Linked DNA regions of Homo sapiens: region 1 is linked to region 2. The links come from fine-mapping of genetic effects on gene expression. Tissue or cell type: nasal epithelium. Region 2 holds a variant in brackets; the other region holds the start of a gene. All regions are shown on one strand. Distances are between the middles of the regions.

Evidence for each region. PIP is the estimated chance that this variant, and not a neighbour inherited with it, causes the effect.
Region 1: it holds the start of VWA2, and the variant in region 2 is fine-mapped to the expression of VWA2 in nasal epithelium (TOPMed, PIP above 0.99).

Annotation. Positions count from the first base shown.
Region 1 is chr10:114,234,828-114,242,931 of GRCh38, forward strand. It overlaps VWA2 (von Willebrand factor A domain containing 2), which reads left to right and starts at 4,427. Exons shown (of 14, transcript NM_001272046.2): 1 at 4,427-4,742. RefSeq lists an enhancer at 4,338-5,046.
Region 2 is chr10:114,284,910-114,293,013 of GRCh38, forward strand. It overlaps VWA2 (von Willebrand factor A domain containing 2), which reads left to right. Exons shown (of 14, transcript NM_001272046.2): 10 at 1-61; 11 at 1,030-1,602; 12 at 4,029-4,580; 13 at 5,331-5,456; 14 at 6,309-8,104. The coding sequence ends at 6,328. It also overlaps a transcript of AFAP1L2 not described here. Among named protein-coding and RNA genes, the nearest start is that of VWA2, 50 kb to the left of the region's middle. RefSeq lists an enhancer at 687-1,298. The variant A/G (reference allele first, on the strand shown) is at 3,610.

The DNA of each region.
Region 1 (8,104 bases), 50 kb before region 2:
GCTCCACAGTTAAGAGACCACAGACCAAATTAGGCTCTGGCTTAATTTGCTGCTTGTTGAGCGCTTCTGAGTCAGGCTCTTTGTTTCCTCTAGGATGGTTTCTTTGCTGTTTAGTAGGTACTGTTTCGTGTTCTTTTATTTCTCAATAAGAGGGCTCTGGTTAGTGGCTGCTATGTGGCTTCTGGAAAATATACAACTCTTGGAGCTCTATTAAGCATCCTCCTTTTTGTCTGTTCCTTTCGTGTGTGCTTTACCTTTCATCATTTGAGGGACTGGATCAAAATATTAGTTGGGATTCTAGAGTTAGGAACTGTTGTACCCATCACCCTTTATAGGTCAGGAAACTGAGCAATCAAAAGTTAAGTTTCTTTTCTGTGTTACAAAGCCAGTAGGCAGGAGCCCCCTAATCTGAAGCCACAGTCACTTTACTACAATGGGTGCCTCTGGGTGATGCATGTCACCGAGTACGGATGTCTCCATTTATCCCTGAGTGAAATTCAGTCACCTCTGTGTTTACACTCTCAGTTTACACTAAGACTCTGTGTTTATACCTCTTGTGTTTACAACTGAGACACACGGGACAGCGCAACTTGAGAATTAACATCATAGAAGGTGTCAACTGAAGAATGAGAAAGTTCATGAATTTGGAAAGGAGAGCTTTATTTTTCATAAAGCGTGGCCACTGGCAGGGTAGCCATTGCTACAGTCTGGAAAGTGTAGCCTCCAGCCAGAAACCAGAAACACACTTCCAGGTTGGGAAAAATAAGACAGGAATTTATGCTGAGTGGAGTGGCCAAATACACAGTAAACTATAGGAGGAGTCATGAATATTTATGAAAGATGTACATGTGCAATTAAGCTTCATGACTCTTGATGGGTTACATGTACAAAAAAATGGTATTAGCATGATTCTGGGGTGGAGTTTTTGGCCCTCTTGGGTCAAAAGGTGAAGCAGAGGACACAACTCTCATGGTACATCTTCTATAGACTAGCCAGAGCCACTCCATGGTCCATTGTCTCTTAGGAAGGAATGCTGGTTGCTTGGTTTGTTGAAACCTTAAAAGGAAGGGGCAGCATCAAGTGGTTGGTTCATATCAATAGTAGAGGCCAGGTGCAGTGGCTCACACCTGCAGTCCCAGCACTGTGAGGATTCCTTGAGTTTGAGGAGTTCAAGACCAGCTTGGGCAACAGAGCAACACCTCATCTCTACCCAGAACAAAAAAACCACCAGTGCAATGGTACGTGGCTGTAATCCCAGCTACTCTGGAGGCTGAGGTAAGAGGACTGCTTGAGCCCAGGAGGTCAAGGCTGTGGTGAGCTATGATTGTGCCACTATACTTCAGCCTGGGGGATACAGTGAGACCCTCAAAGATAGCAGGGGTGGAGCAAGTCTTTCCCAAAGGGCTGGTTTCTGTTTAACCCTTAAGAAAGAAGGCTGGGTACTGTGGCTCATGCCTGTGACCCCAGCACTTTGGGAGGGTGAGATGGACAGATTGCTTGAGCCCAGGAGCTCAAGACCAGCCTGGGCAACACAAGGAAACCTCATCTCTACCAAAAAAAAAAAAAAAAAAAAAAAAAACCTGGTGTGGTGGCACGTACCTGTAGTTCTAACTACTCGGGAGGCTGAGATGGGAGGATTAATGGAGCCCAGGAGGTCGAGGCAGGTCTTGAGCCAAGGTCACACCACTGTACTCCAGGCTGGGCAACAGAGCAAGCCCCTTTCTCCAAAAAAAAAAAAAAAACTAATGGCTGATAGTGAAGGAGCAGGTATAACAAGCTGTTTCCCGTCTCCCTTCCAGTCATATATGGGAACTCCGCTTTTAAGATTTCTCTGGATAATTTAAGGTCAGGAGTTCGAGACCACCCTGGCCAACATGGTGAAACCCCATCTTTACTAAAAATACGAAAATTAGCCGGGCCTGGTGGTGGGCGCCTGTAATCCCAGTCACTTGGGAGGCTGAGGCATGAAAATCGTTTGAACCTGGGAGGCGGAGGTTGCAGTAAGCTGAGATCCAGCCACTGCACTCCAGCCTGGGCAGTAAAGCGAGACTCAGTCTCAAAAATATTTCTCTGGGGTCCCCTTGGACAAGAGGGGGTCCTTTCAGTCAGTGGAGGACATGGGGTTTTATTTCTGAGGGCATTTACTGTGTGCAAGTTACCAGGCATTGGGCTGCAAAGATGAATAAGGCAAGCTCCTGGGAAGCAAGAAGCTTACATGCCCCTTAGAATGATTGTAATTCATAATAACTTTATTTTTTAAATCCTTGTAAATCTTCACAAAGGAAGGGATGTCATGGATGACAAAAGTAGCTACCCAGCTTTCTGCATAAAAAGCCTCCACCCCTGCTGGTCACCCACTCAGCACTCAGCACTCACCAGGGCCTGCACCACCTGCCTTCCCTCCTGCCCAAGTGCACACCCCGGACAGACTGATTATACATTGATGTGAAGAAGTCTGAAGCAACAGGTATCTTCACTGTATTTATGCTTTCAGTTCTTCATAATCACAGAATGAAAATGTGAAATACCTCCCCCCCCCCCGCCCCCAATTAAAGACATGCCAAATACTTCAGGAACAACCAGGATTGAAATTTGGCTTCTCCAAGGTAAGCCTGATAAGGTCAAAGTATGCTGGTACCTGTTAAACAGCATAAGGGGTACAGGGAGAGGGTTGTCAAAGGTAGAATTTCCACTTTCTTGAGGACCTGGGGTCTGCCCTTGTTGGACATCTCTGGAGCAGCACAGGCCACTCACCCCATTTGACTATACAGCACTTAAAAATGTGGCGAGTCCAAATTGAGATGTGCTTGTGAGTATAGAATACAACAGGATTGGCCAGGCGTGGTGGCTCACGCCTATGATCCCAGCATTTTGGGAGGCTGAGGCGGGTGGATTACCTGAGGTCAGGAGTTTGAGACCAGCCTGGCCAACATGGCAAAACCCTGTCTTTACTAAAAATACAAAAATTAGCCGGGCATGGTGGTGTGCACCTGTGATCCCAGCTACTCGGGAGGCTGAGGCAGGAGAACCATTTGAACCTGGGAGGCAGAGGTTGCAGTGAGCCAAGATCATGCCATTGCACTCCAGCCTGGGCAACAGAGTGAGACTCTGTCTCAAACAAAAAAAAAAAAAAAAAAAACAAAAAAACAGGACTTTGAAGACAGCATAAAACATCTTTATTGATTACATGTTGAGATAATGTTCCGGATGTTTAGGTTAATACTGAAATCCAGCTTGCTGTTTCTTTTCACTTTTTATTAAATGTGACCACTAGAACATTTAAAATTACACACGTGGCTTGGTCAGTATTTCTCTGGGGCAATGCTGATCTAGAGGCAGAGACCATCCCTCCCCAGCAGTTAGACCTCAAGACTAACTGCTGTCCCCTGTGGGGATGATGTGGTGGTACATTATGTCTGCTGCTCTGGTGTGGCCCTGTTTTTATTTTTGGGTGCTCAGTAAATGTTACTGGGAGAAATGAATTACAGGAAAAATGAGTCCTTTCCTAGCCTCCTTCAATGAGGTTTGCAACATTAAAGTCACCACGGGCCACTTTCACTGGAAGCTGTCAGTGTCGGAGGTTTGGAAATTAACTGAGAACTACAGACAGGAAAGGTGTAAAGCAAATTATTTTCCTATCAGATTGACATTTACAAGAATAATGGGAAGGAGCATGGAAAAGAGGAAGCAGGTCAACCTTCCTTGAGGACAATTAGATAATAGGCATCAAAAGTCTTAAGTTGTATAAAACCTGTATCCTAGAAATTTACCTTTTCGTAGTTTATTCTAAGGAATTAATTGGACAAAAGCACAAAGACATCTAATTGTATTATTAAAATGGAAAGTTTAATATTCAACAATAGCAGATAGGTTAAGTACATTAGGACATTATGAAGTGGCTTAAAACGGACATTCAAAAAAAGGAAATGGAAAACCTGAGTAATGTACAGCTTGTATGGAATGAACTAAAAATATATAAATTTTTGCATAGGTAGAATGACATTGGAAGAACATACACCACAATGTTAACTGATTATCTCTGGGTGTTGGAAAATGATTGATTTATCAACTTTTTTACTGTTATTTCTTTTCTTTTTTTTTTTTTTGCAATGAACAGGCATGCTCTGGCAGTTTTTAAATGAAGTATGGAAATTATGGATTGTGCAGTCATAGTCAACGTTCATTGAGAGCTTACTTTATATAAAGCATCATGCTCAGCATTGTGCTTTGTGGCATTTGATTTTTTAAAAATCAAACGCCCTCCAATCTTAAGCAAGGATGATGGCCAAAAGGTCGGCTTATTACCCAACTGCAACAATAGGAGGGACAGGTAATTAAAAGGCAATTGCCATGACAAATAGAAAAGATGCCAAAGTCAACATTTTTTCAAGGAGCTATAAAGCCCGTGGAGGAGTCAGCTGACGGCACAGTGTTCGCGGCTGCACCGCTCGGAGGCTGGGTGACCCGCGTAGAAGTGAAGTACTTTTTTATTTGCAGACCTGGGCCGATGCCGCTTTAAAAAACGCGAGGGGCTCTATGCACCTCCCTGGCGGTAGTTCCTCCGACCTCAGCCGGGTCGGGTCGTGCCGCCCTCTCCCAGGAGAGACAAACAGGTGTCCCACGTGGCAGCCGCGCCCCGGGCGCCCCTCCTGTGATCCCGTAGCGCCCCCTGGCCCGAGCCGCGCCCGGGTCTGTGAGTAGAGCCGCCCGGGCACCGAGCGCTGGTCGCCGCTCTCCTTCCGGTGAGTCCCAGCCCCGAGTTGGCTCTGGCGCCCGGGTACCCGCCAGTGCCGGCTGCCGATGACCGATTCACGCTCCCGGTACTGGGGCCCCCTCTGCCCAGCCACCCCTACCCAGAGCACCCGGGCTGCGCGGCCCCGCCGAGGGTGCGGGCTTTGTTCGCATTGTCTGCGCGCACCTGAGCGCGGCCTTCCTGGCACGGCGGCGTCGGGGGAAGAGCGCACCTGGCGCGCGCCTCCCTCGTGGCCACTCGCGGTCCGTCCCGGGCGAGCTGGCGGGGTTTTGGGAGGGGTGCGGTCAGCAGGTAAGTGGGTAGGGGCTCCGGGTACAGGGGTGGAGGAGGGCATGTATTAAACCCAAGCTGCCCTCCTGGCACAGTAGCGGGGCCCCCTTCCCTGGCGGCCGCGGAAAGGGACTCGCCCTTTGAATAAAGGCTTTGGTGACATGCTCGCTTCCACCCCACACCCCACTACAGGACATACACAGGTGTTAAGGGGACTTGGGGCAGTTTTCCCAGGCAGAACGAGTGCCCCCAGCGAAGTGTCTGCAAGCAGAACCTGAGAGGGGCCGGCTGCCCCGAGAGTCCTCGCGCTTGGGCAGTGGGAAGTCCAGGGGTTTGTCGTTCTGGTGACTTCCCCCACCTGGCTCAGCCCTGCTTCCTGCATGTCTCCTTCCCTTCCAATAAGGCTAACAAAACTTTCCCTAGCTAAGCCGACCTTTCCCTCCCGCCTTGGGCCCTTGGCCACCTGCTGGGACGGTGAATGGGAGAGTCTCAGAATTGAACCTTGAAAACTTGCTGGGGGCACCAGACAGAAGAGAAGGGAGGAGGGCACCTTGCTGCTTGTGATTGTGGAATCAAGGGCTCCAGCTGAAGCTGAAAGGGGACTTAGCAATGGGGACCTCATGCCATGTGTTTGATGTCTTGGAGATTGGAATAATTAGAACGTGTACATTTTTCAAATTACAAGCTGCTTTAAGTAAAACCCCAGAACCTCTAAGTGTTTTATAAATTCAGTCCCAAAAATTCAAGGTCTCTTTTGCTGTTAAGGTGACACTATATTAAGAAATGTCGATTTATTGAAGAGTCAGAGAAGTGAAGAGGTCAGAAAGGTACCACTAGAGTTGGCAAAAGCCACAGGCATGAATTTGTAAATGCTGCTGGCTTTCAGCAGGCTGAAGCCATCCTCTCTTGTGACTGATGGGGGTTCAGAGCTCCTCAGGCCTTACTCTTCTTTTGTAAAATCCAGCCCAGAGCCATCTCCTAGTAGTGTAAGAATTTCTCAGACTAGGTCCCCAGGCAAATCCCAGGTTGGAGAAGAGGATTGCTTTCCTCATCATCTCTGGCTGAAAACCATCAGTGTATTTTCATTAAATCTGGTTTTTGGTCTACCGTACAGAGATTACAGCCAGTATTTCCCCTCTCTTCAATAGGCACAAGCCCCTGGGATATCCGAATCATAGTCAGAAGCCCATGTTTTTACAGATGAGGAAACTGAGACCCAGTTTTAGAGTGTTAGGTTCAAAGCAAAATTGAGCAGAAGGTACAGGTTTCCCATATACCTCCTGTCCCCGCCTATGCACAGACTCCCCCATTGTCAGCATCCCCCACTGCAGTGGTACATTTGTTCCAACTGATGAACCGACACTGGCACATCATTATGACCCAAAGTTCACAGTTTGCCCTGGGGTTTGCTCCTGTTGTACATTCTATGGCTTTGGACAAATGTAAAATGACATAAATCTGCCATTATAGTATCAAACAGCATAGTTTCACTACCGTAAAAATCTTCTGTGCATCCCACCCTCCCTACAACACATGGTAATCACTGATCTTTCTACTGTCTCAATAGTTTTACCTTTTCCAGAATGTCTTATGATTGGAATCATGTAGTACGTAGCTTTCTCAGATTGGTGTCTTTCGCTCGGTAATATACACTGACATTTCCCCTCCTGGCTTTTTAATGAGCATCATAAAAACAGAATAGTTATTTGGCAGTGACGGCATCATAAGCTTGTGGTGAAAATGCCTTTTTTGTTAATAACTCCCCTGATGTGTGTGCATCTTACAAAGCATTGTCCTCACATCCTCAGTACCTGGAAGGGTACCGGGCACAGGGCAGATGCTTAATAATTTTTACTGGGTAAATGAAATTTCATGTAATTATAGCAATGAGAGGGTCAGCAACACTACGAGGTTGTTTTAGAACAGTGGTCCTCAAACTTTTGCAGTGCATATATCAGTAAATGAAAACCTAGTTTAATTGGGAGGCCTGCAATAGAATTGCTCATTTTTAATTTTATCCAATAAGGCTATTTTAAAACAAATCCCACCCCCCTCCCTATCATCAAGGAGGCTATTGGAAGTCTGTTGGTGATTGTGTGTGTGCATTCCCTGCAAAATGTTTCTGTATAACCCCAAGGCAGCACAGTGGGACAGCTGAATGTATTTGAAGTCCCTTCCTTTGTGTGACCTTTCGTCTTCTAAACAGCTCTGGACTGCTTAATTTTCCTCTTCCACCTACCACATTAGCTGCTGACTTTCCTTGAATGTGATTACTACCCTCGGTCCTCCCCTTCCTTTTCCTGATCATGAGTCTCTTCTCTTGAACTAGATTTCCCTGGTCTCAAATTAGGAAACTTTGCCCTTGCCCCGGGAGCCTTTGCATCGTGGTTTCATGGGGTCCTGGCGACAACCTTTCCAGGGAAATAGGATGGATGGTGTTACCTCCGTTTTAGAGAGAAGGAAATTGAGAGACTGAAGTGGAGGAATTTACCCAGGAGGCTCATGCTCAGGTATCCTGCCATCAGATGGTTGCTCTTTCCAGAGCATCTGTGTACCGCATGCCTCATAGTACCAGGTGCATCTGCATGCCGATGCCTCTGTGTACCACGTGCCTCTGTGTACCAGTGCCTCTGCATACCGCAGTGCCCCTGTGTACCAGTAAATCTGTGTATCAGTGCCTCTGCATACCAGTGCATCTGTGTACTGTGTGCCTCTGCGTACTGGTGCCTCTGTGTACCGCATGTCTCTGTGTACCACGTGCCTCTGTGTACCAGTGCATCTGTGTACCGCGTACTTCTGGTCATAGCTGAGAAGTCCTGGGCTGGACTCTAAGCTGGGTTTTTCTCGCTCTGTGGCCTTGGGTCTCGTCTTCTCCAAGATCATTTCTTCATCTATAAAGATGTAAATGATAATATCTACCCTACAGATTATGGGTGTTGTTAAATGAAATGAATATATTAAATGTAATGATAAACTTTTAACATCATTCATTTAGAAAACATTTTACTATTTAGCAGAGACTTTTCTACCCTGTCTCACTGGATCTTTACAACACTGGGGGAGTTTATGAAACAGATTCTC
Region 2 (8,104 bases):
GAAGGACTGGACGGCTACCAGTGCCTCTGCCCGCTGGCCTTTGGAGGGGAGGCTAACTGTGGTAGGTATGCACCGGCCCTGCAAGACTGACCACTGGGGAGCAAGAAGAGGACGGGCTCCCCTTTTCATTGCACGCCCTTCCAGCTGCTGGGTAGAAACTGGCCCTTGAACCATCTGCTTTCCAATGCACCACTGGTCTGCAGTTCACGTGGTGCAGCCTGTCAGTGCTCCGTGAGTAGATAATTGGGGTGGCTGAGCTCTGGATGAGACAGTGGCTCCCAGCTTATTAGCTGCAGAATGGTCACTGCTTGAAGTTTGAGTGCTGCCCAGCCCAGCTGAAGGCAGGAGTCCACCCAACTCTGGCTCCCAGTCCTGGGCAGAGTCTTTTCTTCTCTATTCTATGAAAGCAGAGCAAGGAGCCCCGATTCCTTTTGATTTTAGAGGTGTGAAATGAAGATGATAGTAGGCTTTACCTCACTGGGTGGTTGAGAGTTTTAAATAAGATTATGCAAAGTGCTTAGTACCATGCTTGACGCATATAAGGGCTTGATGAATAATAACTTTTAAAAACAAGTGATACTGGGTTAGTTGAAGATCTGTATGAAAACAATCTTGACCCTGTACCTCACAACCCTACCAGAAGTCAATTCTAGCGTGGCTATAGACCTCTGTGCAAAAGGCAAAGCAGTGAAGCCTGTAGAAGCAAACACAGGAGCATATATTTTCATGATCTTGAGGCAGACAAAGATTTCTCAGGACACACACAGGACTAACCATAATGGAAAAAAGTGATAATGTAGATGGCATTTTTCTTTAAAAAGTGGCTAGATGGAGACCCTTAGCGAGTGCCAGGAGTGCCATGTCTGGCCTTGTCTCTAACTCTGTGACGAGCACGGGTCACTTAAGCTTGGGGGGCCCACAGTTTCTCTGCACCATCTCCCTCCTGGGAGATGTTCGGCATCTCGGGTGGGACAGCTCGCATGCCGCATGACCATGGCTTGACAGTGGGTGTTGCTGTGATCCCCGCAGCCCTGAAGCTGAGCCTGGAATGCAGGGTCGACCTCCTCTTCCTGCTGGACAGCTCTGCGGGCACCACTCTGGACGGCTTCCTGCGGGCCAAAGTCTTCGTGAAGCGGTTTGTGCGGGCCGTGCTGAGCGAGGACTCTCGGGCCCGAGTGGGTGTGGCCACATACAGCAGGGAGCTGCTGGTGGCGGTGCCTGTGGGGGAGTACCAGGATGTGCCTGACCTGGTCTGGAGCCTCGATGGCATTCCCTTCCGTGGTGGCCCCACCCTGACGGGCAGTGCCTTGCGGCAGGCGGCAGAGCGTGGCTTCGGGAGCGCCACCAGGACAGGCCAGGACCGGCCACGTAGAGTGGTGGTTTTGCTCACTGAGTCACACTCCGAGGATGAGGTTGCGGGCCCAGCGCGTCACGCAAGGGCGCGAGAGCTGCTCCTGCTGGGTGTAGGCAGTGAGGCCGTGCGGGCAGAGCTGGAGGAGATCACAGGCAGCCCAAAGCATGTGATGGTCTACTCGGATCCTCAGGATCTGTTCAACCAAATCCCTGAGCTGCAGGGGAAGCTGTGCAGCCGGCAGCGGCCAGGTAAGGTCCCAGTGCCTGACCCAGGACCGCTGGTCAGTGGGCGGGTCCTTCCTCCTTTTGGCCACCACCTAACCATCATTTTCTGCCAGTGCCTCTTCTAGGGGCTGAAACCACAGCCCCACTCTTTCAGGCACCAGTCACATAAATAATTTTCAGTTTACCTGTCAACAAAATGGGACTAATAGTAGTACCTCCTGAGAGATCTTTAGTGAGAATTAGGTAAGATGGGCAGTGTACATGCTTAGTACAGAGTAAGCACTCAGCAAACTCTAGGTGTTGCTGTTATCATTCTTAATCACGATTTTATTGTTGTTGTTACTAAGAGCTCTGAATCTACTAAGCAGGCTCCAGAGCAGCAGCTTCCCAGCTCCTTTGATGGCAATCCACAGAAAAGTGTGTTCCTGGTGCACACATGCACATGTATGCACACATACACACACGGATGCATGTGCATGCACACGCGCTGGTGCAGCCACACACAACTGAAACAAACGCTTCCTGAGAGGATACTTACCCTGTCTACTTGGGATGCATTCTGACATTTTTCTCTTCTGTTCTGTTTTGCAAGCCATGAAGCTGATTTTTTATGACCCCTATTGGAAGGCACTCTAGAGAACACTGTCCCCACGCAGAGGCCTGGCCCATGGCCAGAGATGTAGTAGCTGAAACACGTCTTTTTTTTCTTTTGAGACAGGGTCTTGCTCTGTTACCCAGGCTGGAATGCAGTGGCACGATCATAGCTCACTGCAGCCTTGAACTCCTGGGCTCACGTGATCCTTCCACCTCAGCCTCCAGAATAGCCAGGACTACAGGTGCACACCACCATGCCCAGCTAATTGTTTTATTTTTTAGAGAGATGTGGTCTTGCTATGTTGCCCAGGCTGGTCTCGAACTCCTGGGCTCAAGCAATCCACCCACCTCAGCCTCCCAAAGTGGAGGGATTACAGGCTTGAGTGAAATGTAAGCCTTTATAGGGCTCCTGGAGTTCTCCCCTTGGTAGGTGGGCATGGGAAGCTACAGATGTGATTCTGCTTCTCAGCCCTGATGCCACCACTCTCCCCAAGGCGAGAGGCTTTCCCTCCTGTAAGGCGGAAGGACAGGGATTGGCTGCCCACTCCCACCCTGCCCCTCCAGGCTGGTCTAAGTGCTTTTGTTCTGCTGCTTTGTTTGGTTGGATTTTTTAAAAAAAATAATAGTTGTAGATTTATAGGAAAAAATAATTGACAATAGTGGAGAGTTCCCTATACCCCACACCCAGTTTCCCCTCCTATTAACACCTTGCATTAGTATGGCACAGTGTTATCATTAATGAACCAGTATTGATACATCATTATTTAGTGAATCCATGCTTATTTATATTTGTTTAGTTTTTACCTAATGTCTTTTTTGTGTTCCAGAATCCCATCCAGGACCCCACAGTACATGTAGTCAGCCGCCTTCCCCGTAGCTGTGATAGTTTCTCAGACGTTCCTGGTGTGGGAGTGGTTTTAAAAACCAGTAATCAGAGCATCAGCTCCTCTAACTCCATACTTAGAATTTCCAGTGGTTCCCCTTTGCACTTGGAATAAAACCCAAACTCCTTCCCCTGGCTTCTGAGAGCTCCCTGTGGCCTGGTCCCCACAGGCCTCTCTGCATCCCCTGCACAGGAGAGGCCTTCTGGCTCATACTTACTTGTCTTTCAGTTCTTAGGTGAAATGTCACCTCCCCAGAGAAGCTCTGACCCCTTCTCCCAGTCTTGTTATGTTCCCCTACTGGTCTCTCTCGAAGTCCCCTGCTTTTCCCTCCACGCTGCCGACATCATTTGTAATTCTATGTTCATTTCATGTCTGTTCCCCTAGACTGTCAGCCTGTTGACAGCAGGCATGGGCCCATTTTGTCCATACAGCATCTAATTAGTGCCCTGCATACTGGGGATGGATGAAGGCACAGGTGAAGATGTTGTCACAAAGGGTTGCCCACAAACCCAAACCCCATGGGTTACATAAGACAGGAACTTATTTCTCTCAC[A/G]TACAGTTCAGAGGTGAGTGGCCCGGGCCAGCAGGGCTTGGTCATCTTATGGCTTCCACCTTGAGGTCCAAGGTCACCATTTCTCAGCCAGCAGGAAGGGGGAGAGGGGAAGTGGAAGGTAAGCAGCTTCCAGCTGCATGAGTTTGAAATTGATCACGTCCGTCAGATAGAACTTAGACACGTGGCCACCCTAGCTGCCAGGAAGTCTGGGAAATGTGGTCTGGCAGGCACTCATCTTCCTGCTAATATTCTAGGAAAGTGCTGTTCTGTGGCTAAAAGGAAGACATAGAGGGTGTATTCTGCAGTGAACAGAGCACCCTGGCTGACCTTGGTCCTACCCAACCTGGCAGTCCCTGGGTCCCGTCGAGGGGCTCTGACTGGCACATCCACTGCTGAAGCCCCTCTGCTTGCTCCTGCAGGGTGCCGGACACAAGCCCTGGACCTCGTCTTCATGTTGGACACCTCTGCCTCAGTAGGGCCCGAGAATTTTGCTCAGATGCAGAGCTTTGTGAGAAGCTGTGCCCTCCAGTTTGAGGTGAACCCTGACGTGACACAGGTCGGCCTGGTGGTGTATGGCAGCCAGGTGCAGACTGCCTTCGGGCTGGACACCAAACCCACCCGGGCTGCGATGCTGCGGGCCATTAGCCAGGCCCCCTACCTAGGTGGGGTGGGCTCAGCCGGCACCGCCCTGCTGCACATCTATGACAAAGTGATGACCGTCCAGAGGGGTGCCCGGCCTGGTGTCCCCAAAGCTGTGGTGGTGCTCACAGGCGGGAGAGGCGCAGAGGATGCAGCCGTTCCTGCCCAGAAGCTGAGGAACAATGGCATCTCTGTCTTGGTCGTGGGCGTGGGGCCTGTCCTAAGTGAGGGTCTGCGGAGGCTTGCAGGTCCCCGGGATTCCCTGATCCACGTGGCAGCTTACGCCGACCTGCGGTACCACCAGGACGTGCTCATTGAGTGGCTGTGTGGAGGTGAGTGGGGGAATCCACACCCTCAGGGCTGCCCCCATGGCAGGCCCTCAGCCTGAGCCTTCACATACATCATGACGAGGATGGCAGCTCTTCCCAGCTACTGAGCACTTGCTTCCCAAGTGCCAGGTTCTGTGCTAAACCCCATGCTCACATAAAATCCTACAGTAGGCATAACCATCCTATTTGACATTTAAGGTACAGAAAGTTTAACTAACATAGATAACTCCCCCCAAACTTGAGAATTTATGCATTCCCTTTAAACAGAACACACTTTTAGAATATCCACAAGCTTCCTAAGGGTCTAAAGATCCCACATTCACACTGACTTGGGCAGTGACAGAGCCCAGAGCAAACAGGGCCAGGCCAGCCCAAATCCAGTGACCTCCTCTTCACCTTCTTAAAAGAGACAGGAGAATCACTTGAACCCGGGAGGTGGAGGTTGTGGTGAGCCAAGATCGCGCCATTGTACTCCAGCCTGGGCAACAAGAGCAAGATTCTGCCTCAAAAAAAAAAAAAAAAAAGTCTGCCATGTGTATGGCACGTCTGAGCAATGGACTCTCCATGAGTCTGTAGGAGAGCTGGGTCTTACTAACCTAGCCAAGTGGTATGCAGCACCAACCATGAGCTACCGGGGCAAAGGGAGACATGACTCTAGTAGCCTTGCACCTCTACTGGGCTTACTTAGGGTAGGGGTCTTCGGGTCTAACCCATGCCTGGCCGGCCTGGTGGGTATGGTGTTCTCCATTGTAGAAGCCAAGCAGCCAGTCAACCTCTGCAAACCCAGCCCGTGCATGAATGAGGGCAGCTGCGTCCTGCAGAATGGGAGCTACCGCTGCAAGTGTCGGGATGGCTGGGAGGGCCCCCACTGCGAGAACCGTGAGTGGAGCTCTTGCTCTGTATGTGTGAGCCAGGGATGGTATTGCGAGTCCTGCCAAGTCCCACAAACTCAGCTGAAGGCAGGTTCTAAAACATTCGTTCAGTGGAAGAAATTATTCAGTCGTTTACCCACGAAACATTTAGTGAGTACCTCCTGCATCCCAGGCATTGTTCTCAGTGCAGGAACATAGCAGTAAACAAATGAATAAAACCTCTGCCCTCATGGAGCTTCCATTCTAATGGGAAGACAGACAATAAGCAAATAATACAACATGTGGTGTGGTAGACGGTGCTAAGCACCCCGGAGAAAGTCATGACAACTAGGAGGGAGGCCACAGTTAGGAGCACAGTAGATCCAGGGTACAGGGATGTAGACGGAGGCAGGGATGGGTAAATGCGGTGGTGGGAGCTGCTGGAAGCTCTTTTTGGGGTGCTATTTGCTCAGTAAAATGGGAGGAACAGCTAAGTGAGGACGAGGAGGAGGTGCTAGAGGTTTGAGAGAAAAGAAGTCATTGTCAAGGGTAACAGATTAGGACCTAGAGAGTGATCGTTGGGAGGCATTAGAGGTCCAACTATGGCTCCTGTTCATGAGTTTGAAGTTAGAACAGCCAGAAATCAGAAGACAAGTCCAGTCGGAGCCTTGGTTTTTTGGCCACGGGCAGAGGTTGGCTTCCTAAGGCCAGAGAGAAGCTCTGGAGGATAATCACATGGGGTCTCTAATCTGGCATCTTCTGCTGGGGGCGAGGTGGGTTGTAGAGTAAGAGCAGGACCTGAAGGGGTCCTCAGAGGCTGCTGGAGGGCTGAGAAGGGGATGCAGACACTCCTGTCCTCAGACTTCACTTCCTTCCCCAGGATTCTTGAGACGCCCCTGAGGCACATGGCTCCCGTGCAGGAGGGCAGCAGCCGTACCCCTCCCAGCAACTACAGAGAAGGCCTGGGCACTGAAATGGTGCCTACCTTCTGGAATGTCTGTGCCCCAGGTCCTTAGAATGTCTGCTTCCCGCCGTGGCCAGGACCACTATTCTCACTGAGGGAGGAGGATGTCCCAACTGCAGCCATGCTGCTTAGAGACAAGAAAGCAGCTGATGTCACCCACAAACGATGTTGTTGAAAAGTTTTGATGTGTAAGTAAATACCCACTTTCTGTACCTGCTGTGCCTTGTTGAGGCTATGTCATCTGCCACCTTTCCCTTGAGGATAAACAAGGGGTCCTGAAGACTTAAATTTAGCGGCCTGACGTTCCTTTGCACACAATCAATGCTCGCCAGAATGTTGTTGACACAGTAATGCCCAGCAGAGGCCTTTACTAGAGCATCCTTTGGACGGCGAAGGCCACGGCCTTTCAAGATGGAAAGCAGCAGCTTTTCCACTTCCCCAGAGACATTCTGGATGCATTTGCATTGAGTCTGAAAGGGGGCTTGAGGGACGTTTGTGACTTCTGGCGACTGCCTTTTGTGTGTGGAAGAGACTTGGAAAGGTCTCAGACTGAAATGTGACCAATTAACCAGCTTGTTTGATGATGGGGGAGGGGCTGAGTGTGCAATGGGCCCAGGTCTGGAGGGGCCACGTAAAATCGTTCTGAGTCGTGAGCAGTGTCCACCTGAAGGGTCTTCCTTTCAAAAGAGGCTGCGGCCAGAGACTGTGGCTCATGCCTGTAATCCCAGCACTTTGGAGGCTGAGGCAGGTGGATCACCCGAGGTCAGGAGTTTGAGACCAGCCTGGCCAACGTGGTGAAAGTTTGTCTTTACTAAAAATACAAAAGGTAGCCGGGGGTGGTGGTGGATGCCTATAATCCCAGCTACTCGGGAGGCTGAGACAGGAGAATGGCTTGAACCTGGGAGGCGGAAGTTACAGTGAGCCGAGATCTCACCACTGCACTCCAGCCTGGGCAACAAGAGTAAAAATCTGTCTCAAAAAGAAAAAAATGTACTTAGGAGGGGTTAATTGTGGCGTGTTTATGGAATTCTTTCCTTATTCTCCTTTTAGTGGGGCAAAGAGAAGTAAGATTCTTAAACTCAAAAATATAGGATAAAGAAACTTACAGAGATTTTGCTTTTTAAAGCATTGATCTTACGCTGTCTAGGTTTTAATTTTGTTTTGCTTTGCTTTTCTACACAGTTTTTAAAGAAATATTTCAAGAAATGTTGGTTATTTATTAAACAGGGATATTTGTACCTATGTGGCAAAGAGGCATATTTGGAATATTCTCTGGCAAACTAGATACTTACTTCCCTATCGCTGCAGTATTTAGGAATTACTTCTTCTCCTTGGTTGTGTTGTTTAGAGTTGGATTTTCTGTAGAAATCTTTCTAGAGCTCTGATGTGACTCCAGACACTTTATCGTTTTTCTTTTTTTTGAGACGGAGTTTTGCTCTTGTTGCCCAGGCTAGAGTGCAGTGGTACAATCTTGGCTCACTGCAACCTTTGCCTCCCAGGTTGAAGTGATTCTCATGCCTCAGCCTCTTGAGTAGCTGGGATTAGAGGCAGGTGCCACCATGCCTAGCTAATTTTTGTATTTTTAGTTAGAGACAGGGTTTCACCATGTTGGCCAGGCTAGTCTCGAACTTCTGACCTCAGGTGATCCCCCTGCCTTGGCCTCCCAAAGTTCTGGGATTACAGGGGTGAACCACTGTGCCTGGCCCATTTTT